Homo sapiens: one gene and its partners. The protein of the gene in region 2 purifies or fractionates together with the protein of the main gene of each other region. This does not show direct contact. Each region holds a gene or a part of one and is shown on either strand. Other genes may lie near its edges.

What was found.
Region 1: the proteins of SOD2 (region 2) and MDH1 fractionate together in Homo sapiens (co-fractionation; 2 studies listed by BioGRID). This does not show direct contact.
Region 3: the proteins of SOD2 (region 2) and POGLUT3 fractionate together in Homo sapiens (co-fractionation; one large-scale study listed by BioGRID). This does not show direct contact.
Region 4: the proteins of SOD2 (region 2) and ECI1 fractionate together in Homo sapiens (co-fractionation; one large-scale study listed by BioGRID). This does not show direct contact.
Region 5: the proteins of SOD2 (region 2) and DLD fractionate together in Homo sapiens (co-fractionation; one large-scale study listed by BioGRID). This does not show direct contact.
Region 6: the proteins of SOD2 (region 2) and ABAT fractionate together in Homo sapiens (co-fractionation; 2 studies listed by BioGRID). This does not show direct contact.
Region 7: the proteins of SOD2 (region 2) and SPRYD4 purify together in Homo sapiens (co-immunoprecipitation; one large-scale study listed by IntAct). This does not show direct contact.

Annotation. Positions count from the first base shown.
Region 1 is NC_000002.12:63,598,963-63,602,462, forward strand, and holds part of MDH1 (malate dehydrogenase, cytoplasmic), read left to right. Parts: intron 1-207; coding exon 208-330; intron 331-3,500. UniProt on the Homo sapiens protein: Catalyzes the reduction of aromatic alpha-keto acids in the presence of NADH. Plays essential roles in the malate-aspartate shuttle and the tricarboxylic acid cycle, important in mitochondrial NADH supply for oxidative phosphorylation.
Region 2 is NC_000006.12:159,669,242-159,672,741, reverse strand, and holds part of SOD2 (superoxide dismutase [Mn], mitochondrial isoform A precursor), read left to right. Parts: 3' UTR 1-3,500. UniProt on the Homo sapiens protein: Destroys superoxide anion radicals which are normally produced within the cells and which are toxic to biological systems.
Region 3 is NC_000011.10:108,474,385-108,477,884, reverse strand, and holds part of POGLUT3 (protein O-glucosyltransferase 3 isoform 1 precursor), read left to right. Parts: intron 1-173; coding exon 174-278; intron 279-2,932; coding exon 2,933-3,058; 3' UTR 3,059-3,500. UniProt on the Homo sapiens protein: Protein glucosyltransferase that catalyzes the transfer of glucose from UDP-glucose to a serine residue within the consensus sequence peptide C-X-N-T-X-G-S-F-X-C. Can also catalyze the transfer of xylose from UDP-xylose but less efficiently.
Region 4 is NC_000016.10:2,245,088-2,248,587, forward strand, and holds part of ECI1 (enoyl-CoA delta isomerase 1, mitochondrial isoform 1 precursor), read right to left. Parts: intron 1,900-3,500; coding exon 1,772-1,899; intron 1-1,771. UniProt on the Homo sapiens protein: Key enzyme of fatty acid beta-oxidation. Able to isomerize both 3-cis (3Z) and 3-trans (3E) double bonds into the 2-trans (2E) form in a range of enoyl-CoA species, with a preference for (3Z)-enoyl-CoAs over (3E)-enoyl-CoAs.
Region 5 is NC_000007.14:107,918,441-107,921,698, forward strand, and holds the end of DLD (dihydrolipoyl dehydrogenase, mitochondrial isoform 1 precursor), read left to right. Parts: intron 1-569; coding exon 570-659; intron 660-753; coding exon 754-819; 3' UTR 820-2,758; downstream 2,759-3,258. UniProt on the Homo sapiens protein: Lipoamide dehydrogenase is a component of the glycine cleavage system as well as an E3 component of three alpha-ketoacid dehydrogenase complexes (pyruvate-, alpha-ketoglutarate-, and branched-chain amino acid-dehydrogenase complex).
Region 6 is NC_000016.10:8,765,117-8,768,616, reverse strand, and holds part of ABAT (4-aminobutyrate aminotransferase, mitochondrial isoform 1 precursor), read right to left. Parts: intron 2,410-3,500; coding exon 2,347-2,409; intron 425-2,346; coding exon 361-424; intron 1-360. UniProt on the Homo sapiens protein: Catalyzes the conversion of gamma-aminobutyrate and L-beta-aminoisobutyrate to succinate semialdehyde and methylmalonate semialdehyde, respectively. Can also convert delta-aminovalerate and beta-alanine.
Region 7 is NC_000012.12:56,475,078-56,478,577, forward strand, and holds part of SPRYD4 (SPRY domain-containing protein 4), read left to right. Parts: coding exon of another isoform or gene 1-106; 3' UTR 107-546; coding exon of another isoform or gene 547-605; 3' UTR 606-867; coding exon of another isoform or gene 868-900; 3' UTR 901-2,582; coding exon of another isoform or gene 2,583-2,641; 3' UTR 2,642-2,855; coding exon of another isoform or gene 2,856-3,019; 3' UTR 3,020-3,105; coding exon of another isoform or gene 3,106-3,185; 3' UTR 3,186-3,500. Other genes in the region: GLS2 (glutaminase liver isoform, mitochondrial isoform 1 precursor), read right to left, coding at 1-33, 547-605, 868-900, 2,583-2,641, 2,856-3,019, 3,106-3,185.

The DNA of each region.
Region 1 (3,500 bases), on a different chromosome or scaffold from region 2:
TCTGATATTATTTCAAAATTTTTTATTACCATTTTATAAAAGATTTTTATAACTTAAAATGCATTTTCCTATGCTATATTGTATTTGGTGTTTCCCAAGCCTCCCCTGTACAAAGGCTACCTGTTAGACATTTTCAGTCAAATTTTAACATAGATTAGTTAGTAACTATATAGTCTGTAACTCTTCAGTGCCTTCCATTCCTCCTAGGTTATTGTTGTGGGTAATCCAGCCAATACCAACTGCCTGACTGCTTCCAAGTCAGCTCCATCCATCCCCAAGGAGAACTTCAGTTGCTTGACTCGTTTGGATCACAACCGAGCTAAAGCTCAAGTAAGAAAAATATATTTTAAATCTTGTGGTTGTTCAACTTTAAAACATTTTTCTCTCACTTTTAAAATAACTGAATCTGAGTTTGTGCTTTTTTCTTGTTTTTGTTTAGTAGGAACCTATTACTTTTATTAAATTAAAAGTAAATTATTATTCATTTGTTAGGGAGTCTTTAAATGTATTCTCTTAAAGGACCAGAGGCTGGACTTCCTACTTGATTTCGTCTTTAACTATATTTCAATTGCTAACTATAATGAAATGCAGTTACTAATGTTCTCTTGTTACAGTGGTTAAAAATTAGTTATACATGATGGTACATAATTTAGTTTAATTTTTTCAGATACATATAATCTCATATAAACAAAGACTTGAGCTTTGTGTGATTGTGTGGTTCTGCTTCTATTTTAGCTGCAGCTAAGCCATCAAATTCAGATTTTAATTTTTAATTTTATATTTAATTTTCATTTTATGTCTTTTTAATATTCTATGTGTATCTGTAAAATTTCCTCCTTTCACTACTTAGGAGCTAAAGTCTGTTGCTAATTTTCTTTACTCTTAGAGCCATAGATAAGTATGCCAAGGAGCCAGTGACCAGGGAATTAACAATAGCTTTTCAAAAAATTAGAAGCCAGGCAACTGATCTGAGCTAGTTTCCTAGGCTTTTTCAGATCTAACTGGTCCTGGTGCCCGTTCTTGGACAGAACCTCTTTCCTTTGCCCTAATGCTTTTCTGGCCATCCCTTCTTGTCTGTAGGTCATCACTGCTAGATAGGTCTATGAGTTCAGTGCTTTTTCTTCTAGAGAAGATAACTTTAGTTTCAAAAAAAAATTGTTGTTAACCAGAAGATGCTGTGAGGTCTAAGCTGAAGCACTACTGCCCTAACCTGAGAATTAATAATCCTTCAGCTCTGGAATGCCTAGTGAAAGAGAAAAGAATATACATTTGTTAAGCATCTACTGTAAATTGAATGCTATACATGTAATTTTCCATTTAATTTTTATAGTAACCATATGGGTATCTCATATTATCCCTGCATTAGGTAAGAAAACTGAGGCCCAGGGAAGTCAGAGAACCTGCTCAGAGTCATACAGCTCATAAATTACGGAGCCACCTTGATTTGCCTGACTCCAAACCCTTATGTATGTTCTTACCTAATGGTATCAACTAACCTTAGTCCACTTACTAGCTCTGTGATTTTGAGAAAGTATATTCAATGTTTAAAATGTAATAATTGTATCTACCTCAGAGAGTTCTTATGAGGATTAAATAAGATCTGTTTTAAGCCCTTAGCATGGTGCCTGCACATAGTAAATACAAGAAAGGTTGGCTGCTATTATTAGTTGATTTCTTCTTTCTAAGAAGCATACAGCCTAAACATTCCTAATTTAGAGGGTTGTTGGATAACAACCCTTAAATTTTTAGCTTAAAGTGCAAATATTCCCTGAGAGGCTATAGGCTGTGAGCTGGGTCTGGTGGTAGCTGAGAACGAATAGGAGTTTGTTTGAATGGCAGGCAGTTTGAGTTCTGTGGGACAGTTGTAAAGGAAGAGATATTATACATGTTACAGTTGCAAACTCTGGATTGCCAGAAAGTGACTTATTTAGTTCCTACAACAAGAAAGTTCCTACAACAATGACACTAACAACCACTTTTTGTTGTTTCACCTGAGGCTTTGGTGGAGACAGGCATTGGAAAATTCTGCTTCCAAAGGTACTTCAAAGAGATACTTTGTCCTGGTGCCTGAAACAGTTCTCACTGCAGGGCTCAAGTCTGAATGAGCAAAGAGGAAAGAAAGTGCTATCTCCTCAGACTTTAACCTTCACTTGGGGACATGTTCTTTGTTACTCCTGGGACCTTGGCTAGGCATTGTTTCAGCATGTCAATCTGGCATAGTGAGAGCTTTTAGGGAGTCATTGAAGAAGCACTTTCTTCCTCTAGAAGAAGTTGTTTATCCAGTGAGAAAAATAACAAACCCAAAGATAAGTTTTTCTTACAGGACTGGTTGCTAGATATTTTTGTCTTGGAATTCAGAGGCCTTAGCGACTTAGGGACTGTTTAACACCTGCAGAACTTGCCTGTGTATTTGCAAACCAGTGCTGTATTTATGTCTGCTGATAAGGTAATTTGACATTGATACCAGATAAGGTAATTTGACAATGATACCAGTTAGCTTGTAAGAAAATTACTAGGGCTGGAGAATTAATCAAAAACTTTTAACAGACCTATGTGACAGACATGAGTGTCTAAGGGAGCAAAGAGCTGTTATCCTGGGTATGTATTAATTTAGACTAATTGTGACATGAATCATATTAAGAAACTATATCTGCTGGATGCAAAGTACCTGGCCTTTGCTGTCCAGACAGAACTGGATTAGCTCAAGAGATAGAAGGAGCAAGAGGAGGAGGGCAACAAGAACAAAGGAAGGCATGGGAGCCAAGGAGGACTGAGGGTGGAGAGGCCTAGAGGCATTTTGTCTTCACTGTACTTGGGAGCATTGAAGCAGACATTCAGGGAAGTTATAGGCTCTAACTTCCTGGTAATATATATCTTGAGTTAATTGTTCAAGGTATAAATTTATCTTTTTCTATATACCATACCAGCTAAATTTAAGTATAAATATAAGAGCAGTTTCTTCCCCAGTTCTTTCTGGTCATGGCAGACGTAAAAAATGGTACTCATTGAACAGCGTGCCACTCTACCCTATCCCACAGGCTAAGCAGATCAATAGCTGGGTACCCCAGAAACCCAACTGTGAACTAATTTGTGGAGACTAATGCAAATATTGTAGATAATAGTCCTAATACTTGCAAGACTTGCAGGGATTAGATCGGTCAAAAGTGATTTACAATATCACAAACATAAATTTTTAAGTAAACTTTTAACTATTTTAGGATTTAAGAAAGCAGTCTCAACTAGTTTAAGAGTGGGAGTGAAAGTAAAGACAGTTTACTTCTTACTTAACTGAATAAATTAGTATGAAGACCAGTCGAGTCATTGCAGACATTTTAGGTAATGGCCTTTTTTTTCATCTTTATCCTTTTCGGTTGGTTGGTTGGGGTTTTTTTTTTTTTTTTTTTTTGCTTTTTATTTTGAAATAATTTTAGACTCAAAAGTCGCAAAAAAATAGTACAGAGAAGGCCCATGTACCCATCACCCATTGATGGTACCTTACA
Region 2 (3,500 bases):
TGTTATGTGTGAATTTGATCCTGTCACTAGGATGTTCACTGGTTATTTTGCTCGTTAGTTGATGCAGTTTCTTCCTAGCCTCAATGGTCTTTACAATTTGGCATGTTTTTGCAGTGGCTGATACTGGTTGTTCCATTCCATGTTTAGTGCTTCCTTCAGGAGCTCTTGTAAGGCAGGCCTGGTGGTGACAAAATCTCTCAGCATTTGCTTGTTTGTAAAGGATTTTATTTCTCCTTCACTTATGAAGCTTAGTTTGGCTGGATATGAAATTCTGGGTTGAAAATTCTTTTCTTCAAGAACGTTGAATATTGACCCCCACTCTCTTCTGGCTTGTAGAGTTTCTGCTGAGAGATCAGCTGTTAGTCTGATGGGCTTCCCTTTGTGGGTAACCCGACCTTTCTCTCTGGCTGCCCTTAACATTTTTTCCTTCATTTCAACTTTGGTGAATCTGACAATTATGTGTCTTGGAGTTGCTCTTCTCGAGGAGTATCTTTGTGGCGTTCTCTGTATTTCCTGAATTTGAATGTTGTCCTCCCTTGCTAGATTGGGGAAGTTCTCCTGGATAATATCCTGCAGAGTGTTTTCCAGCTTGGTTCCATTCTCCCCGTCACTTTCAGGTACACCAATCAGACGTAGATTTGGTCTTTTCACATAGTCCCATATTTCTTGGAAGCTTTGTTCGTTTCTTTTTACTCTTTTTTCTCTTAACTTCTCTTCTCACTTCATTTCATTCATCTGATCTTCAATCACTGATAACCTTTCTTCCAGTTGATCGAATTGGCTACTGAAGCTTGTGCATTCGTCACGTAGTTCTCATGCCATGGTTTTCAGCTCCATCAGGTCATTTAAGGACTTCTCTATGCTGGTTATTCTAGTTAGCCATTTGTCTAATCTTTTTTCAAGGTTTTTAGGTTCTTTGTGATGGGTTCGAACTTCCTCTTTTAGCTTGGAGAAGTTTGATCATCTGAAGCCTTCTTCTCTCAACTCGTCAAAGTCATTCTCCGTCCAGCTTTGTTCTGTTGCTGGCAAGGAGCTATGTTCCTTTGGAGGGGGAGAGGCGCTCTGATTTTTAGAATTTTCAGCTTTTCTGCTCTGTTTTTTCCCCATCTTTGTGGTTTTATCTACCTTTGGTCTTTGGTGATGGTGATGTGCAGATGGGGTTTTGGTGTGGATGTCCTTTCTGTTTGTTAGTTTTCCTTCTAACAGTCAGGACCGCCAGCTGCAGGTCTGTTGGAGTTTGCTGGACGTCCACGCCAGACCCTGTTTGCCTGGGTATCACAGTGGAGGCTGTAGAACAGCGAATATTGCTGAACAGCAAATGTTGCTGCCTGATCATTCCTCTGGAAGCTTCATCTCAGAGGGGTACCCGGCCATGTGGGGTGTCAGTCTGCCCCTACTTGGGGGTGCCTCCCAGTTAGGCTACTCGGGGGTCAGGGACTCACTTGAGGAGGCAGTCTCTCCGTTCTCAGATCTCAAACTCTGTGCTGGGAGAACCACTGGTCTCTTCAAAGCTGTCAGACAGGGACATTGAAGTCTGCAGAGATTTCTGCTGCCTTTTGTTCGGCTATGCCATGCCCCCAGAGGTGGAGTCTACAGAGGCAGGCAGGCAGGCCTCCTTGAGCTGCAGTGGGCTCCACCTAGTTCGAGCTTCCCGGCTGCTTTATTTACCTACTGAAGCCTCAGCAATGGTGGGCTCCCCTCCCCTAGCCTCACTGCCACCTTGCAGTTCGATCTCAGACTGCTGTGCTAGCAATGAGCAAGGCTCCATGGGCGTGGGACCCTCCGAGCTAGGCACAGGATATAATCTCCTGGTGTGCCGTTTGCTAAGACCATTGGAAAAACGCAGTATTAGGGTGGGAGTGACCCAATTTTCCAGGTGCCGTCTGTCACAGCTTCCCTTGGCTAGGAAAGGGAATTCCCTGACCCCTTGCCTTCCCGGGTGAGGCCATGCCTTGCCCTGCTTCAGCTCATGCTCAGTGGGCTGCACCCACCGTCCTACACCCACTGTCCAACAAGCCCCAGTGAGATGAACCTGGTACCTCAGTTGGAAGTGCAGAAATCACCTGTCTTCTGCGTCGCTCACGCTGGGAGCTGTAGACTGGAGCTGTTCCTATTCGGCCATCTTGGAACCCAACCCAAGTCTGGCATTTTTTGGTTTTCTCTGTGTATTGACTATGATTATAGAGGATAAATGGATATTGATATTATTAAATCGTCATTTACAGAAGGCACACAACTTATATCCTTTAAACAAAGTTCTCCAACCAGTAGGGTATACTTGCTGGTAGTGCTTACAGCTGCCACCATTCTTCACTGGGGCTCAGAGTGGATGCCTGGAGGAAAAAAACAAATGAATCTTTTAGCTCCTAGTTACTGTTAGCATTTTTACCAGAAAACAATTTAAAAAATGACACAAGTAAGTCTTCACCTATCAAGGCTGAGTGTGGTGGCCTATACTTGTAATCTCTGTGCTTTGGGAGGCCAACGCAGGAGGATCTCTTGAGTCCAGGAGTTTGAGACCAGCCTGGGCAACAAAGCAAGACCCCATCTCTACAGAAAGTTAAAATTTAGCTGGGCATGCTGGCACATCCCTATAGTCCCAGCTACTTGAGAGGCTGAGTTGGGAGGATCCCTTGAGGTCATGAGTTGGAGTCTACAGTGAGCTGTGATTACAGTGTGAGTCTACACTGCACTCCAGTCTGGGTGAAAGAGATCCTGTCTCTCAAAAAACAAGTGATTCTCCTGGGAAGAGATTTGTTTAAAAAGTCTGCACCTCTATTGATGATAACTTTGAATGTAAATGGATTAAATTCTCCCACTTAAAAGATATAGATTGACTGAATGGATTAAAAACCACCATCATGACTCGACTGTATGCTGCCTACAAGAAACCTCACCTGTAAAGACAGGCCAAAAGTGAAGGTATGGAGAAAGATATTGCATACAAATGGAAGCCAAAAAAGAGCAGAAATAACTATACTTACATGAGATAAAATAGACTTTAAGTCAAAAACTGTAAAAAGAAAAGTCATTATGTAATGAAACAAGGATCAATTCATGCAAGATATAATCATATTTTTTTATTAAGAAAATTTTTTTGTAGAGATGGGGTTATGCTATGTTGCCTGGCTAGTCTCAAACTCTGGGTCTCAAAGCAGTCCTCCTGCTTTGGCCTCCTAAGGTGCTGGGATTATAGGCATGAGCCACTGTGCCAGGCCTGAGGATATTATCATTATAAATATATATGTACCCCACACTGGATGACCCAGATATAAAGCAAATATTATTAGATTTAAAGGGAGAAATAGACTCTAATACAATAGTAGTTGAGGACTTCACTCTACTCTCAGCATTGGACAGATTTTCTAGACATAAAACCAATAAATATTGGATTTAAATTGCACTTTACACCAAATGGACCTGACATTTACAGAACATTCTAATAGGTGCAGAACACTCTAATAGCTGCAGAACACACGTTCTTTTCATCAGCACATGGA
Region 3 (3,500 bases), on a different chromosome or scaffold from region 2:
GAGCCACCATGTCCGGCCCCTGTAGCCTCATTCTTAAGTTATAATTCCATTATGTTCTGGCTTTCCCATGCTGTTCACTTTCAACCCCACATCTGTCCCACCTCACACTTAACCCTCTCTTTGTGGGTCGCAGTAGTAATTTTCATTCATTTTTATTTTTTTTAACCTTTCAGGAAAATGATGAAGAAGCCAAGAAGATTGCAAAAGAAGGACAGTTGATGGCTAGGGACCTACTACAGCCACACAGGCTTTACTGCTACTATTACCAAGTACTGCAGGTCAGTTCAGAGTGTCCGTCCACACTGCTGGGTCGGGTGTCCTCAGACTACCCGCTTGGCCTGTACACTTCCTGCCTGGCTTCCTGAAGGACTCACAGTCAAGCCTATGGACCACTGGCTAAGCCAAGGCACTTGCCTAGGGAAAGATAGTGCTAAGTCTTCATTTGGTGGCCCCCTTTTTTTTGTTTTTTGTTTGTTTGTTTGTTTTGAGATGAAGTCTCACTCTGTCATGCAGGCTGGAGTGCAGTGTCTCAATCTCAGCTCACTGCAGCCTCTGCCTTCCAGGTTCAAGCAATTCTGCCTCAGACTCCCAAGTAGCTGGGATTACAGGTACACGCCACCATGCCCAGCTAATTTTTGTATTTTTAGTAGAAACGGAGTTTCGCCATGTTGGCCAGGCTGGTCTTGAACTCCTGGCCTCAGGTGATCTGCCTTGCCTTGGCCTCCTGAAGTGCTGGGATACAGGTGTGAGCCACCACGCCCAGCCGTGGCCTCCATATTTTCATCTTTATTCCATATTATGTAAAACGACGCTGGGAGCCCTCACAAATATAGATTAGCAACTCCTCCCATCTTCTCAGTGCTCTCTTTTATTAAATGCTTTATTGAATTCCTAGTGTAGGTGTTCTGGAACCTCAGAGAAAAACATTTTTTCTTATTTGGAAAACAAGATGGTTGGACTGGAGATCATTAACATCCCTTTTTACTCAAAATGTCGCCTCCTTATTCTCCTTGATACTTAAGATTCATGCCTTTTATAGTACAAGGCAGAATGCAAATATTTAGCTTGCTGTAGCAAACAAACTAATGAGAAATATGTATAACAGTTCTAACACCTTAGGGCTGAATCCTGAAGTATAGTGTTTATTGGGAATCCGAGGATTGGTCTTTTGAGTAACTACCTTGAGTTTTACTCAGAAAAATCTAGACAGGAAGAATAAAAAAAGGAAATTATGTTCTTGTTTTTAACCTAAATTTATTTTTCTGTAGGCATAGTAAAAGTAAATTTCCCTAGATGCTTGTGGATACTACCCTCTCATATTTTCATTTTCATAGAAAAATAAAAATGATAAGTTACACTATTTACTAGAAGCAGCCCTTCCTTCCCTTAAATTGGTCTGTCCCCTCTGTTGGTCTAGCTTTAATCGTTAAACAGTTTTTTTAACAATTTCTTGGCCGGGTGCAGTGGCTCACACCTGTAATCCCAGCACTTTGGGAGGTCGAGGAGGGTGGATCACCTGAGGTCAGGAGTTCAAGACCAGCCTGGCCATCATGGTCAAACCCCGTCTCTACTAAAAATACAAAATTAGCCAGGTGTGGTGGCACATGCCTGTAATCTCAACTACTCAGGAGGCTGAGGCAGGAGAATCGCTTGAACCTGGGAGGCAGAGGTTGCAGTGAGCCTAGATTGCACCACTGCACTCCAGCCTGGGCAACAAGAGCAAAATGCATCTAAAAATATATATATTTCTTACTCGGTCACCTAGGCTGGAGTGCAGTGGCATGATCACAGCTTACTGCAGCCTCAACCTCCTAGGATCAAGCGATTCTTCCCCCCTCCCACCTCAGCCTCCCACTAGTAGCTGGGACTACACCACCACACTCAGCTAATTTATTTATTTTTTTTAGAAACAAGCTCTTGCCGTGTTTCCCTGGTTCCTCAAGTGATTCTCCAGCCTCAGCCTCCCAAATAGTTTCAATTTTAATGTTAGGAATTTCTCTCTCTAAAATATTAATTAGGCTTATCTACTGTGTCAACATTTTGTTGCATTTGGTCCAGTACCAGGAATATACAGCAAAAGGGACATGGAATCATTGAATTGAAATATCCAATTTATGTCTGGGCAGGGTGGCTCATGCCTGTAGTCCCAGCACTTTGGGAGGCTGAGGTAGGCAGATTGCTTGAGTCCAGGAGTTGAAGACCAGGCTGTGCAACATGGTGAAACGCCATCTCTACAAAAAATGAAAAAAATTAGCTGGGCATGGTGGTACGCGCCTGTAGTCCCAGCTACTTAGGAGACTGAGGTGTAAGGATCACTTGAGCCTAGGATGTTGGAGGCTGCAGTGAGCCAAGATCACGCCACTGCACTCCAGCCTCAGTGACAGAGTAAGACCGTGTCTCAAAAAAAAAAAAAAACAAAAACAAAAAAAACTCCATTTATAGAAATATTTCACTCAGGGCCACAGTGGAGGAACATTACACAGACCTGTTGCCATTCAAAAATGCGTGTGACTATAGGCCTAAAAGAAAGAATGTGTGAGACTGCCAACTTTTCAGATGGTTATCTTGTTTGTTTGCTGGCTTGAGTATTCAACAAAGTTAATTATTCAATAACAAGTGGAAAATAAATGCTGAGAGCTGCTGTTTGTTTCAGGTAGGGACGTCTGGCTTGGCATCCCTTTTGTAGAGGCTTCCAACCAACACATAAAATTGTGGATTGGGGTTTCTTGCTAGATTATGAATTATAACTAGTGCCTGTGATAGCTAAAGTTAAAATGTAACTTTAGGACTGGAATAAACCAGACCTTTGGTTTTAGTCTGCAGACACACAGCAACTAGAAAAGATGGCGTGACTGCGGATGGGAGTGGGTGGGGGAGTCAACAGAATGCAGTGTGAACTAACCTTTCAGTTCCCTTTAAACCCACGTTTCAGAAATATGCCGAGCGCCAGTCCAGCAAACCCGAAGTACGTGATGGAATGGAACTTGTTCCTCAGCCAGAAGATAGCACAGCCATCTGCCAGTGCCACAGGAAAAAGCCTTCAAGAGAAGAACTTTGAGTCAGCCCAGAATCACACTCCTGTGTATCCCGGCTACACTTTAAGGAAAGATTGAATCTAAGCTGTGAAGGACAGTATAGAAGACTGCACCAAGTGGACTAGTTCTCCCGGTGGCTTTATATATGTAGATGGATATAGCAGTACTGGTTGAGTATCCCTCATCTGAAATGCTTAGGACCAGGAGTGTTTCAGGCTTCAGATTTTTTAAGATTTGGGAATATTTGCATGTACATAATGAGGTATCTTGGGGATGAGATCCAAGTCTAAACACAAAATTCATTTATATTTTATATATACCTTGTTCACATACCCTGAAGGTAATTTTATATAATATTTTTAATAATTTGTGCATGAAACAAAGTTTGTATACATTGAACTGTCAGAAAGCAAAGGTGTCACTATCTTAGCGACCCAAGTGGTGGTGTCAGCACTCAAAAAGTTT
Region 4 (3,500 bases), on a different chromosome or scaffold from region 2:
CGGGCGCCAGCACAGGAGCCTCAGACTCCCAGTCAGGGCTGCCGGCCAGGGAGGCGGGCTCGGGGAGGAGTGGAGAACCCACCCTGGGGACCCTGCATGGTCACAGCCCCCTGAGCAAATGACAAGGGTACCTTCCCCTCTGCACAACACGGCACGTTTTCCTCCCGAGGGCCAGACCCCCCAAGGCTGTGGGTGAACTTGTTCCTGCAGCTGAACCCAGCTCACCCTGACTCACACAAGCAGAGCTGGGTGGATGTTTACCCCGCCCTGTCTGCAGGAAGGAGGGCGACAGCCACCTAATGTGTGCGAGGAGGAGGCGGCTGGGACAGATGGGATGGCCTCCACATCCTCAGGCGATGTGAAAAAGCCAGGAACGGTGCGGGTGGGCAACGCAGCTCCGCTGTTCCCAAACAGGTGTGAGCTGGTGCCGCACAGAATGGGTAGGCCGGTCCTTTGTTTCTACAAAACGCGTTCTACTTCCGTTACTCAAAACCCAGGCCTGGCGTGGTGGCTCATGCCTGTAATCCCAGAGCTTTGGGAGGCCAAGATTGGAGAACTGCTTGAGGCCAGGAGTTCAAGACCAGCCTGGGCAACATAGCAAGACCCCGCCTGTACAAAAAAGTAAAAATTAAGCAAAAAAATTAACCAGGTGCAATGGCTCGCACCTGTAATCCTAGCACACTGGGGAGCCGAGGTGGGAGGAGTGCTTGAGCCCAGGAGTTCAAGACCAACGTGGGCAATAAAGGCACTGTCTCTCCCAAAAATTTTAAAAATTTTCAAGATTCAAGAATCGCTTGAACCCAGGAGGCGGAGGTTGTAGTAAGCCAAGATCACGTCACTGTACTCCAGCCTGGGCAAGAGAGGGAGATTCTGTCTCAATAAATATATAAGGCTGGACGTGGCCAGCACTTTGGGAGGCCGAGGTGGGCAGATCACTTGAGGTCAGGAGTTCTAGGCCAGGCCCTGTAAAGCCACGCCAGCCTCCGAGGACCCCTCACTCCCCTCACCTCAGCCAATGCCCGCTTCTCCTCAAGGGTCCCATCCTCCTGGGCCTGACACTGCTTACTGCCCCTCGGCGATGTTGGTAATGACACCGTTCCCACAGATGACACGCCTAGCGTTCGCCAGCACTCAGGCAACATTTAGAGTCCCCTGCACAAGAACTCAGACCAAAGAGGTTCACCCTTGAGAACTCGCCCTGAAGACTGGCCCACAGAGGATCAGAGAGCATGGGTATTGTTCGCAGGACTGGCTCAGGGCACCCAAGTGATCCTAGTGGGGAGCACTCCAGGAACCCACCACCAGGTGTGCTTAGGGTCCAAGGTGACCCCATAGATGCATGGCTCTCCCTCACTCGCTGCCCACAGCTCTCCCCAGTGTCCGCCTGGACGACGGCCCGGGCAGGGAAGGCTGTCTCCCAGGAAGGCGGTCTCCCAGGAGGGCTGCCTCTTGGGAAGGCTGTCTCCCGGGAAGGGCGTCTCTTGGGAAAGCTGTCTCCTGGGAAGGCTGTCTCTGAGACTGGTCCACCTTCACCTTTGGGAATGATCTGCTTGAGGCCCATGGCAGTTTGGGTCCCTGCTGGGGCACACCCAGACGGTGCTCCTGGAAGCCTCCCGTGAAGGCGCCTGGAGTCCAGGGTGGTGGGGCTGCCGGCTGGCCTGTGCCACACGTTGGCAGGCTCTGCCTCTTCCATGTGCAACAGGCCTGGGCTCACATCAGAGAACTCAGGCCAAGAACTCGGGCTGGGGTAGGGAGCTGAACTAGCACCTACCGAGGTCAGAATGACACCGCGGAAGCTCTTGTCATTCTCCAGCTTCTCCAGGCTGATGACCAGCTCCGTCAGAAACTCCAGGCTCAGGCTGTTCACTGGGGGGTTCTTGAATTTCATCACAGCGACCCCTAATTTAAAGAATGAGAAGAGAAAGCTCACACCTGGCACTGGAAAAGCAGCCTGACCAGCCTGCACCCTCAACTAAGCCATGATAGCTGTGCATTTTGGGGGTTTTATTTATTAATTTATTTATTTAGAGACAGAGTCTCGCTCTGTCACCCAGGCTGGAGTGCAGTGGCGCGATCTCAGCTCACTGCAAGCTCTGCCTTCCGGGTTCACACCATTCTCCTGCCTCAGCCTCCTGAGTAGCTGGGACTACAGGTGCCCACCACCACGCCCGGATAATTTTTTTCTTTTAAGTAGAGACAGGGTTTCACCGTGTTAGCCAGGATGGGCTCGATCTCTTGACCTCGCGATCTGCCCACGTCGGCCTCCCAAAGTGCTGGGATTACAGGCGTGAGCCCCCGCGCCTGGTCCTATTTTTATTTACTTTTTTGAGACGGAGTTTTGCTCTTGTTGCCCAGGTTCAAGTGCAATGGAGCGATCTTGGCTCACCGCAACCTCTGCCTCTTGGGTTCAAGCGATTCGACTGCCTCAGCCTCCCGAGTAGCTAGGATTACAGGTGCGTGCCGCTACATCCAGCTAATTTTGTATTTTTAGTAGGGACGGGGTTTTCTCCATGCTGGTCAGGCTGGTCTTGAACTCCCAACCTCAGGTGATCCGCTCGCCTCGGCCTCCCAAAGTGCCAGGATTACAGGCGTAAGCCACAGCGCCCGGCCTGGGGGTTATTTTTTTATTATTATTATTTTTGAGACAGGGTCTCACTCTATCACCTAGGAGTGCAGGGGTGTGATCTCTGGTTACTGCAGCTTTGACCTCCTGGGCTCCAGCGATCCTCCCAACTCAGCCTGCTGAGTAGCTGGGATTATAGGCAAGCGCCACCACACCCAGTTAATCTTTTTTATTTTTTAGTACAGACGAGGTCTTATTTTGTTGCCCAGGCTGGTCTTGAACTCCTGAGCTTAAGTGGTCCTTCTGCCTCAGGCTCCCAAAGTGCTAGATTACAGGAGTGAGCCCTTGGTTTTTTACATTGAAGTAAGATCGATATAACATAAATTAACAATTTTATTTATTCTATATAAACTGCATGCTTTTTAAATCAACCATTCTCTCTTTCTCTCTCTATCATTTTTTTCTGAGACAGAGTCTCGCTCGTCGCCCAGGCTGGAGTGCAGTGGCGCGATCTCAGCTCACTACAACGTCCACCTCCCGGGTTCAAGCGATTCTCCTGCCTCAGCCTCCTGAGTAGCTGGGACTACAGGTATGCGCCACTATGCCCAGCTAATTTTTGTATTTTTAGTAGAGATGGGGTTTCACCATGTTGGTTGGCCAGGATGGTCTCGATCTCTTGACTTCGTGAACACCTCGCCTCGGCCTCCCAAAGTGCTGGGATTACAGGTGTGAGCCACCATGCCCGGCCAAATTAACCATTTTCTATCTTTATTTTTTTTTTGAGACAAGAGCCTCGCTCTGTTGCCCAGGCTGGAGTGCAGCAGCGCTATCTCGGCTCACTGCAACCTCTGCCTCCTGGGTTCAAGCCATTCTTCTGCCTCAGCCTCCTGAGAAGCTGGGATTACAGGACACACCACCATGCCTGGCTAATTTTTGC
Region 5 (3,258 bases), on a different chromosome or scaffold from region 2:
TCATTTTCACAACAGACCAAATATTTGCATTTTAGGGCCTTTGTGCTTAAGATACCCTCTGCTTAGACTGTTCTGCCTCCAGATCTTTGAATGGCTGGCTCCTTATTATTCAGGTCTCAGCTCAAATGTTACCTCCTAAGGGAAGCCTTTCCTACCACTGAGCCTAAAGTATGTATCTTTCTTGTAGATATCTCTTGTATCTGATGTAACAATAATGAGAATAGAATATTTGAGTGCTGTGTCACTTTAGTATACATTTTGTTATTTTTACATCAGCTTTTTGAAATAGGTGCTGTTATTTTTGAGGTGAAGAAACTGAATGAAGCACAAAGAACCAATGAATGGTTAAGGTAGTAAGTGGTAGATATGAATTGAAGGCCCTTTGGCTCCAGAGCCCAAGCTCTTCTGTGTCACCTTTTCTATTAAGCTTTTCCTGACTTTTCTTCAACTGATAAAGAAACAGATTTAAGGCGTTTTTAAGATCTAAAAGCTTCCCCTCAACAATTGCTATCCTATTAGCATGTAGTTTTTGCCTTGGAAGCAAATTTACTTGGCTTGTTATTTTAAAGGGTGCTGGAGAAATGGTAAATGAAGCTGCTCTTGCTTTGGAATATGGAGCATCCTGTGAAGATATAGCTAGAGTCTGTCATGCACATCCGGTAATTATTAACAACATATAGAATTGATGGTTGCCTAAATTTTCTTCTGACCCACAAATATTTGGATTTTAATTTTAAATTTCTTCCCTTGCAGACCTTATCAGAAGCTTTTAGAGAAGCAAATCTTGCTGCGTCATTTGGCAAATCAATCAACTTTTGAATTAGAAGATTATATATATTTTTTTCTGAAATTTCCTGGGAGCTTTTGTAGAAGTCACATTCCTGAACAGGATATTCTCACAGCTCCAAGAATTTCTAGGACTGAATTATGAAACTTTTGGAAGGTATTTAATAGGTTTGGACAAAATGGAATACTCTTATATCTATATTTTACATAAATTTAGTATTTTGTTTCAGTGCACTAATGTGTAAGACAAAAAGCTACTTATTGTAGCATCCTGGAATATCTCCGTCAACTCATATTTTCATGCTGTTCATGAAAGATTCAATGCCCCTGAATTTAAATAGCTTTTTTCTCTGATACAGAAAAGTTGAATTTTACATGGCTGGAGCTAGAATTTGATATGTGAACAGTTGTGTTTGAAGCACAGTGATCAAGTTATTTTTAATTTGGTTTTCACATTGGAAACAAGTCAGTCATTCAGATATGATTCAAATGTCTATAAACCGAACTGATGTAAGTAAACGGTCTCTCACTTGTTTTATTTAACCTCTAAATTCTTTCATTTTAGGGGTAGCATTTGTGTTGAAGAGGTTTTAAAGCTTCCATTGTTGTCTGCAACTCTGAAGGGTAATTATATAGTTACCCAAATTAAGAGAGTCTATTTACGGAACTCAAATACGTGGGCATTCAAATGTATTACAGTGGGGAATGAAGATACTGAAATAAACGTCTTAAATATTCATTTACTGGTTATCATGAGTACGTGTTGAGATGGTCATAGTTTTTTTTATGACTACTTCTAGTGTATATTCTAATTTCTTTTCTAGGCCTGAATGTATCTTTATTTTCATGTTATAGGACAATATTAAGGCATTTTAAAGGTCATCATCCTTTCATCTATTTTAGATACACCTACTAAATGTTTAATATATACTTTTGGAGAAGTACAACATAAGGGAGTCTTTAATCTGTGTTTTCCTTGGCTGGGTTAATGACTGTTTATTTAAAGAGTGTTGTAAAATTGGATGTGTGGTGTTTAAAATGGCCATGTCCTGAGGAAACTTAAGTAACAAAGTACTAAATGCTAAGTAGGCTTTTGCATATTGTAACTAAATTTAAGAATAATTCAGATTAAGTAGTTCTGAAATTTGGTATAGATAGCATAGATTGTCTCATGCTCATGAGTGACATAATGACCCTGGATTCTGTTACATACTTCTAAAGAAAATTGATTGTTGTCTTAGGAGGCAGTTAACTTGGCTGAACACCAACTCCACACTCTGTCTTGTTTGTAGGTGGCAGCAGCTGAAATCTCTTCTCAGTTGTTTTAGCTTTAGCTATGCTGCTGGAAGTCTTTCCCATGCAAGTGTGTAGTTCAGGGGTCAACCAGAGTTTGGGCAGAAGGAAGTCTGCCCCTTCTGTGCCTCCTGTTTTTTGGGGGTTTCCCCTTTATGTTCCAGCTGTTGTGGTTGCCCCATATTCTGCCTTCTGATCCTTAACCAATAAAACTTGGCTTTTGTTTCCCCCTCAAGTGAGAACCCGTTAAAAATGAGACATTGAGCCAGTGCTGTTCACTTTTTAAGTGCCAACTTCCCTCTACTTTCCACTTGTTTATAGTTGTTTCCAGTGCCTTTAGTTTTTTCTAAAATATATTTGTTCAGAGTTTGCAGTTGCTATCAGCAGGAGGGTTGGTCTGATATCTGTGTGCTACTTTGCCATTATTGGAAGTGAACTCTGCATCTTTTTAAAAATTTGAAATCCCGGTATCATGTGAAGTGCTGTTTATGTAAATCTCAACATATCCCTTACTCAGGGAAAAAAAAGTTTTTAGTTAGGGAATAGTGAAATATAATTTAATATGGAATTCTAGCTGTAGAGTTAAATCCATCTTTAAGTGTTTACATTCAGTATGAGAATGCAAATTTATCTGTATGGGGAATAAAGTCCTAGGAATAAAACAAGTTTTAAGTGTTCACTTACTGTTATCTACTAAGCTGTCAATATTTTTGTGGCTTGTGAAGAGTGAAATTAATTGTCCACTTCATTGAACTGATTAAAATTAGTAATTTCAACTGGCTGGGAGCGGTGGCTCACTCCTGTAATCCCAGCACTTTGGGAGGCCGGGGCGGGCAGATCACCTGCGGTCAGGAGTTTGAGACCAACCTGACCAATGTGGTAAAACCCCATCTCTACTAAAAATATAAAAATTAGCCAGGTGTGGTGGCAGGCCCCTGTAATCCCAACTACTCAGGAGGCTGAGGCAGAATCACTTGAACCCAGGAGGCGGTGAGCTGAGATCATGCCACTGCATTCTAGCCTGGCGACAGAGCGAAACTCCGTCTCAAAAAAAAAAAAAAAGTAATTTCAAAGTGAGATCTTTAGTTGTTTAGCTGAAAAGGAATGGAGAGTGTTTCTACTGTTCTAAGTAAAATACTACATAATTGCTCTAGTAGATGATGGGGTATGACCATTTTT
Region 6 (3,500 bases), on a different chromosome or scaffold from region 2:
TTTGATACTGAACCCCAGTTCTCATCCGGAAGCTGAAGGGGGACTCTCGAACCCTTAATTGGCATGCGTGCGTGGGTATGTGTTTGCATTGCGATTAATCACAGATGCAGCGCAGGCTTTGAAGACAGAGTCAAGAGTTCCAGTCCCGGCTCTGTCACTGAATAGCCTTGGAAATTCTTCCTCTTCCTGAACACTGATTCCCCCATCTGCAAAGCAGGAATAATAATCCCCACTCTGCAGTGGGATTGTGTGCAATCAGTGGGACAATATGTGTAAACTGCTAATGTCAGCCGCCGCTATTGTTGCCGTTATTATTACTATTCTAAACGCCACCTTGGGAGCGCAATGGTCCCTCCTTACCCATGGTCCTCCCATGGAACGCGCCCATGAAGGAGAGGATGCTGTAGTCGGGGCAGCCAGGGGCCTAAAACCAAGAAATATCAGTCATTAGTCATAGTTGTAAGGATGGGGGAACTGTATTGTTGCCCCTGCAAGTCCAGAGGGACACAGAAATCTATCAGAAGAACCAGGAATCCTTCTCAGGCAAAAGTTACCCATGGGACCAATGGGGTCTATATCCAAGACACACGTTTTATTTGCATACATACTTACATTTTTTTTTTTTTAAGTCACAAATTTTAGGCTGGGTGTGGTGGCTCACACCTGTAATCCCAGCACTTTGGAAGGCTGAGGCAGGCGGATCATCGGAGGTCAGGAGTTTGGGATCAGCCTGGCCAACATGGTGAAACCCCGTCTCTACTAAAAATACAAAAATTAGACAGGCATGGTGGTGGGGGCCTGTAATCCTAGCTACTTGGGAGGCTGAGACAGGAGAATCGCTTGAACCCGGGAGACAGAGGTTGCAGTGAGCCGAGTTCGCGCCACTGCACCCCAGCCTGGTCAACAAGAGCGAGACTCTGTCTCAAAACAAGTTGCAAAATTTAAAACTAAGAAATTTCACATAGAGACCTGAACTTCTGGCTTCTCACCAGTGCTGCACTGTTTGGACCCATTTTCCTCCTGTGGCAGCTGTAAGTGGCCAAGCAGTACCCACTGCCCGCCTACCTCCAGCTGCTGGGGACTCCTGGGTTTTCAGCCCCTTTTCTACAGGCTCTTCAACTTCCTCCCCATCCCCTGGCTCCCTACTACTCAGGCCTCCTCAGGTGTCAGGCGGGTCAGGTGCTGATGGGTGCACGCCTGCATCCCAGGGTGACCAAGGCAAGGGGCCGAGCTGGGCACCTTGCAGGAAAACCCCCAGGCCTTTGGAAGGGGTCTGTGGTGCTAGAAAGCGGGTGAGGGGAGCCCCTCTCCGGGCACTCTCCCATGGCAGCTGCGCCTTGGGTTCAGGAGGGGTGCATGGACGCCCTGTCCCTTTCCAGCCCCAAGCAAATGGCACAGCTGCAACTCCTTGCATTGTTTTCTGACTCTTCACCCAGCAAGGGAATCCAAACATGTTTCCAGCTGATTCAGGCAGAACTGCTGGAGGTGCCTCAGAGGGAACTGTGGGGGCCCCCAAGTCTCAAGGAGGTTGGCATTGTCTCAGGCTGGTTGAGCACCAATTCCCTGAGACCTCTGGGAAAAACCCTAAGAACTCCTCCCACAGATTCCAGAAACCCTCTTGTACTTTTTTTGTTTTGTTTTGTTTTTGAGATGGAGTCTTGCTCTGTCGCCAGGCTGGAGTGCAGTGGTGAGATCTCGGCCTACTGCAACCTCCGCGCCCGTCGGGTTCAAGCGATTCTCCTGCCTCAGCCTCCCGAGTAGCTGGAATTACAGGTACCCGCCACCACATCTGGCTAATTTTTGTATTTTTAGTAGAGACAGGGTTTCGCCATATTGGCCAGGCTGGTCTGGAACTCCTGACCTCGGGAGATCCACCCGCCTCGGCCTCCCAAAGTGCTGGGATTACAGGCGTGAACCACAGCAGCCGGCCTTTTGTTTTTGTTTTTGTTTTTTTGTTTGTTTTGAGAGGAGTCTCACTCTGTCACCCAGGCTGGAGTGTAGTGGTGTGATCTCGGCTCACTGCAACCTCCACCTCCTGGGTTCAAATGATTCTCCTGCCTCAGCCTCCCAAGTAGCTGGGATTACATGCATGTGCCACTATGCCCGGGTAATTTTTGTCTTTTTAGTAGAGATGGGGTTTCACCATATTAGCCAGGCTGGTCTTGAACTCCTGACCTTGGGTGATCCGCCTGCCTTGGCCTCCCAAAGTGCTGGGATTACAGGCATGAGCCACCGCGCCTGGCCTGGCCCTTCCTAATTGAGGACAGTGCCAGCCAGCCAGCAACAGCCCGGGAGAGGCTGTGCAGCTTCCCCAGATGTACGTGGTGCAAGCCCAGCTGCACTCACCTGGTTAATCATGCACGTCTCCAGCTCCTCCTGGGAGAAGCCCCTCTGCCCTCTTTCCTTGCTCTGAAACAATAGAACAGAACAAAATCTCAGAGATGCTCTGGGGTAGTCGGGGCTTCATCTTTCCAACCAAACCGATATTCAGTCCAGACAAGTAGAAAGTGCTTTCTCAGGAGTGGATCTCATGTATTAATTGTTGCAGGTCTGTACTGAAACGTGAGGCTACCAACTGTGCTCGCAACAAAAGAAACTAACACACATAATGCATTAAGCACCATCAGCAACGATTAAGATCTGTTGGATTAAGATCTGCTGAGAGCGTTGCATGTTTTGCCAGGAAGAATGGAGGCCAGATGTGCGGGCTCAAATCTGTAATCCTAGTACTTTGGGTGGCTAAGACAGGAGGATTGCTTGAGGCCAAGAGTTTGAGACCATGCTGGGCAACAAAGTGGGACTCTGTCTCTGCAATTTAGAATATTTAAATAAATTTAAATTTAAATATTTAAATAAAATAACCTAGAGGCACAACCCAGAGACCTTGGCTTGCCTGGAAGGGTTTTTTTTGTTTTTGTTTTCGTTTCTGTTTTTGTTTTTTTACAGGGTCTTGCTCCTTGCTCTTGCTGTGTCTCTCAGGTTGGAGTGCAGTAGCATGATATCAGCTAACTGCAGCCTCGACCTCCCAGGCTCAAGTGATCCTCCCACCTCAGCCTTCCAAGTAGCTGGGACAACAGGCAGGCACCACCGCACCCAGCTAATTTTTTGTATATTTTATAGAGACGGGGTTTCACCATGTTGCCCAGGCTGGTCTTGAACTCTTGGACTCAAGTGATCTGCCTGCCTCAGCCTCCCGAAGTGCTGGGATTACAAGTGTGAGCCACTGTGCCCAACCTTGGAGGGGAATTTAAGGAGCATTTTCTTCTTCTTTTTTTTTTTTTGAGACAGGGTCTTACTCTGTCACCCAGGCTGAAATGCAGTGGCACAACCATGGCTCACTGCAGCCTTGACCTCCCAGGCTCAAGCAATCCTTCCACCTCAGCCTCCAGAATAGTTGGGACTACAGGCATGCGTCACCATGCCTGGCCAATTTTTGAATTTTTTTTTAGTAGAGATGGGGTTTCGTCATGTTGCCCAGGCTGGTCTCGAGCTCCTGGGCT
Region 7 (3,500 bases), on a different chromosome or scaffold from region 2:
TTCCGATCCCCTGTTTCCTTCTCTGACTGGAATCTGAAGCAAACACCCAATTTAGTACTTGAAGTTGGAGGAGTGGGTGTTGGGAGAAGGGGAAAAATTACCTTCCCTGGAGAGACAGAACTACATCACACCACAAACTAAATGAACCCCTTTATAACTTCTCACAGTAATATTAGAGGAAATTTCTGAACCTGAGCAAACACTCAGCATAGTTTTGTTATAAAGTAAACCCAAACCAAACACCCCAAACTGTCTAGTCATCTAGGAAAACTGGTGAAGTTTTTGGCTTTGAAAGTCTTGGCAAGAAAGGGCTTAGGCACAAACCATCACACTGCCTCTCTCATTATGTACTAATTAGAAATGGAACAAATTATTTTACAAGATAAACAAATGTTTATGAAGGGACTCAGAGGAAGCTGGAGGGCCAAAGTTCCCCTGGGATTTCTTCCTCCTAAGATTCTCTCTCCCCCATTCCTCTTGTCCCCATCCTAAGTACACACACATACACCACAATGCTTTCAGTCAGTCCTCTGAGTAGGGACTTACGTGGCATTGCTGAAACCCATGTATTCATTCCCAGCCATTTTGTTGAGATACTGCAACACCTGGAAGAGAAAAAGGGACATTGAGGCTCCACTTGGTTAAGAAGCTCTATTAATACCTCACAGGTTGACTAGCCCTTCTGAACTCAGGTCTTGTCAAGAGGCTTTCCTCTCTGAGGCCAGCAGATTTCCACATTTCTGGAAATAAGGCTTCTAGTATGGGCTGGTGCACCTGGTAGTGGGGTTAGAGAGCCACTGGGGCAGCTGGAGAGGACAGCATGCCATGGCGAAATGCAGCCAGGGGCTAAGTAGCAAGGGAACTTACAAAATCAAACTTCTCTGCTTTGTTACAGTCCATCTGCAGAGAAAGAGAGAGATGTCAGCATTCTAAGTGTAGGAGGATGACAGAGGGAAGGGTCAGAAGGATCTAGTGGAGTTCTAGTGTTAGTCTGGTCCTGCTGCTGCAAATGTGTTCAATTTTATAATGGCCCTTTTTTTATCCTTCTGAAAACACCGCACTTCCATTGGCTCCTCTCTTTCTCTTTCTTTTTTTTGAGACAGTCTTGCTTTGTCACCCTTGTCACCCAGGCTGGAGTGCAGTGGCACGATCATGGCTCACTGCAGCTTTGACCTCCCAGGCTCAAGCGATCCTCCCACTTCAGCCTCCAAGTAGCTCGGATTACAGGCATGAGCCAGCTTGCTGGGCCATCCCACTTCCATTCTCAATCCAAACCCTCATCCCTGACTCCCACGTTCATTTTCCTGACTCGAATCCTGTCTCCTAGCCCCACCCTATCCCTGATCTCCATCCCCATTCCTTACACCCCATGCTGGAGCTTTACTCCATCCCATTGGCCAGCATGATGGTTCATGCCTGTAATCTCAGCAATTTGGGGGGCTGAGGCAGGAGGATCGCTTGAGACCAGGGGTTTGAGACCAGCCTAGGCAACATAGGAGAGACCCTGCCTCAATTTTTTTTTTTTTTTTTTTTTGAGATGGAGTCTTGCTCTGTCGCCCAGGCTGGAGTGCAGTGGCAGGATCTCGGCTCAACTGCAAGCTCCGCCTCCCGGGTTCATACCATTCTCCTGCCTTAGCCTCCCGAGCAGCTGGGACCACAGGTGCCCACCACCAAGCCTGGCTAATTTTTTGTATTTTTAGTAGAGACGGGGTTTCACCGTGCTAGCCAGGATGGTCTCGATCTCCTGACCTCGTGATTTGCCCACCTCGGCCTCCCAAAGTGTTGGGATTACAGGCGTGAGCCACCGCGCCTGGCCTCTATATTTTTTAAAAAAGGTCCTACTTAGATGGGAATGGGATGAGGCAGGTCCCAGATACAGGTTTGTAGATGGAGCCATCACAGAACAAGGGGAGAGACTCAGCCTCTTTTCCTCACCCAGACTCATTGCTTACTCATGTGTCAACTACAGAGTCAATACCACAGGGACTCTGATACCTGAGTCCCTGAGGGGAGGATTCCTAACACCACCTTCCCCAGGAGGGGCTGTGATTGGCTCCAGGGTGTTGCTGCCCAGCTGCTCCCAGGTTCTTGCTCAAGCCCTGGGAGACCTACAGCTGATGGGCTAGTCTGACACCCTGTTCAAGGCCAACTCACAGTTCCAGGTGACGTGAATAACTGCCCTGGCCTGGCCATTCACCCTTGCCTGCAGGTGTCCCACACCCAGAAGTGGCCAATCAGTGCCCAATAGTGCTGTCCTCCCCTTGTCTCTGGCATTTGGCCCTTGGTCCTAGGCAGGGGTCAGGACCTGCTCACTTCTCTAAGGGTCAGAAAGCTCTAGGCTCTAGACTCATGGGTGGGGGCAGGGAACAGTACTGAGTGGGGATGACGGAGGTGGTGCAGTCTCTTATACTGACATTGTCAGCATAACATGTGGGTCCCTGCTGTGCCTCATGTGCCTTCTGGGGACCCTCAAAGGAATCAGAGCCCCACCAGTCTCCCTGGAGAGCTGAACAAATATGAGGGATACAGGAACACAGGAGCTTAGAGGATAATACCTATCAGAAGGTTAAGGTGGCACTGACCTTGATCAGGGAGCTGACAACAATGGCACCAGCATTGACCATGGGGTTATGGGGGATTCCTGGGGAAATACAAACCACCAAGAGTCTTAGCCACTGAACAAAGCCTCCCTGACAGCCCGCTCACTTTGTGGGTTAGACAAGAAAGACTGCTAGGGAGAAAGGCATGACAGGGCTAATCAGGAAGGGCAGAGAAACAAAAAAGGCTGGGAGATGGGGTGGGGATAAGGAGAAGGGGACAGCTGTAAGTACGGTCTGAGCCTTGGTAGTGCTCACCTTCCTCATTGAGGGAGAGCTTGTTGTAGCGCAGGCCACTTGGCTCTTTGCCCACAAACTTGTGCACGTAGTCAGTGCCTAGGGTGCTTATGGAGATGGCATAGGTGAGGGGCTTCACACAGGACTGCAGGCAGAAGGGGATCTTTGTGTGGCCCACAGAGTGCCTGGAGGCAGACAGATGCCATGAAAGGGGTTGGCCTGTGTTCGGCACCTGTGCCCTGCCTCCCCTTCCTCTTGCCCAGCATCTCACCGTTGACCATCCACAGTGCACAGGGAGACACCCCACAGGTCTGGGTTTGACTTGGCCAGCTGAGGGATGTAGGCTGCCACCTGGACATGAGTGGGTAGAGAAAAGGGAGATGGATGTGGAGAAGAGGAACAGAGTTGAGGTTGAGGGTCAAGAGAATCTTTTAGATAAAAGCTAAAATTCTGTCTTCTATAGGGCAGAGGGGTTCCCTCCTGCCTGTTGCTCCCAGAAATGCCCGAGCCTTAAGTCCTAGAAGGCCATATCTTTGTGTATCCGCAATCCTGTAGAGATAGCAGTAAAGCCAATGGAAGTTAAAAAAGGAGAATTCTGAGGCAACCTTCCCCTTTTGGTTCTTAGGCTCAGTTACCCTATAAATCCCTTTGAAGGCTCTATTCGAT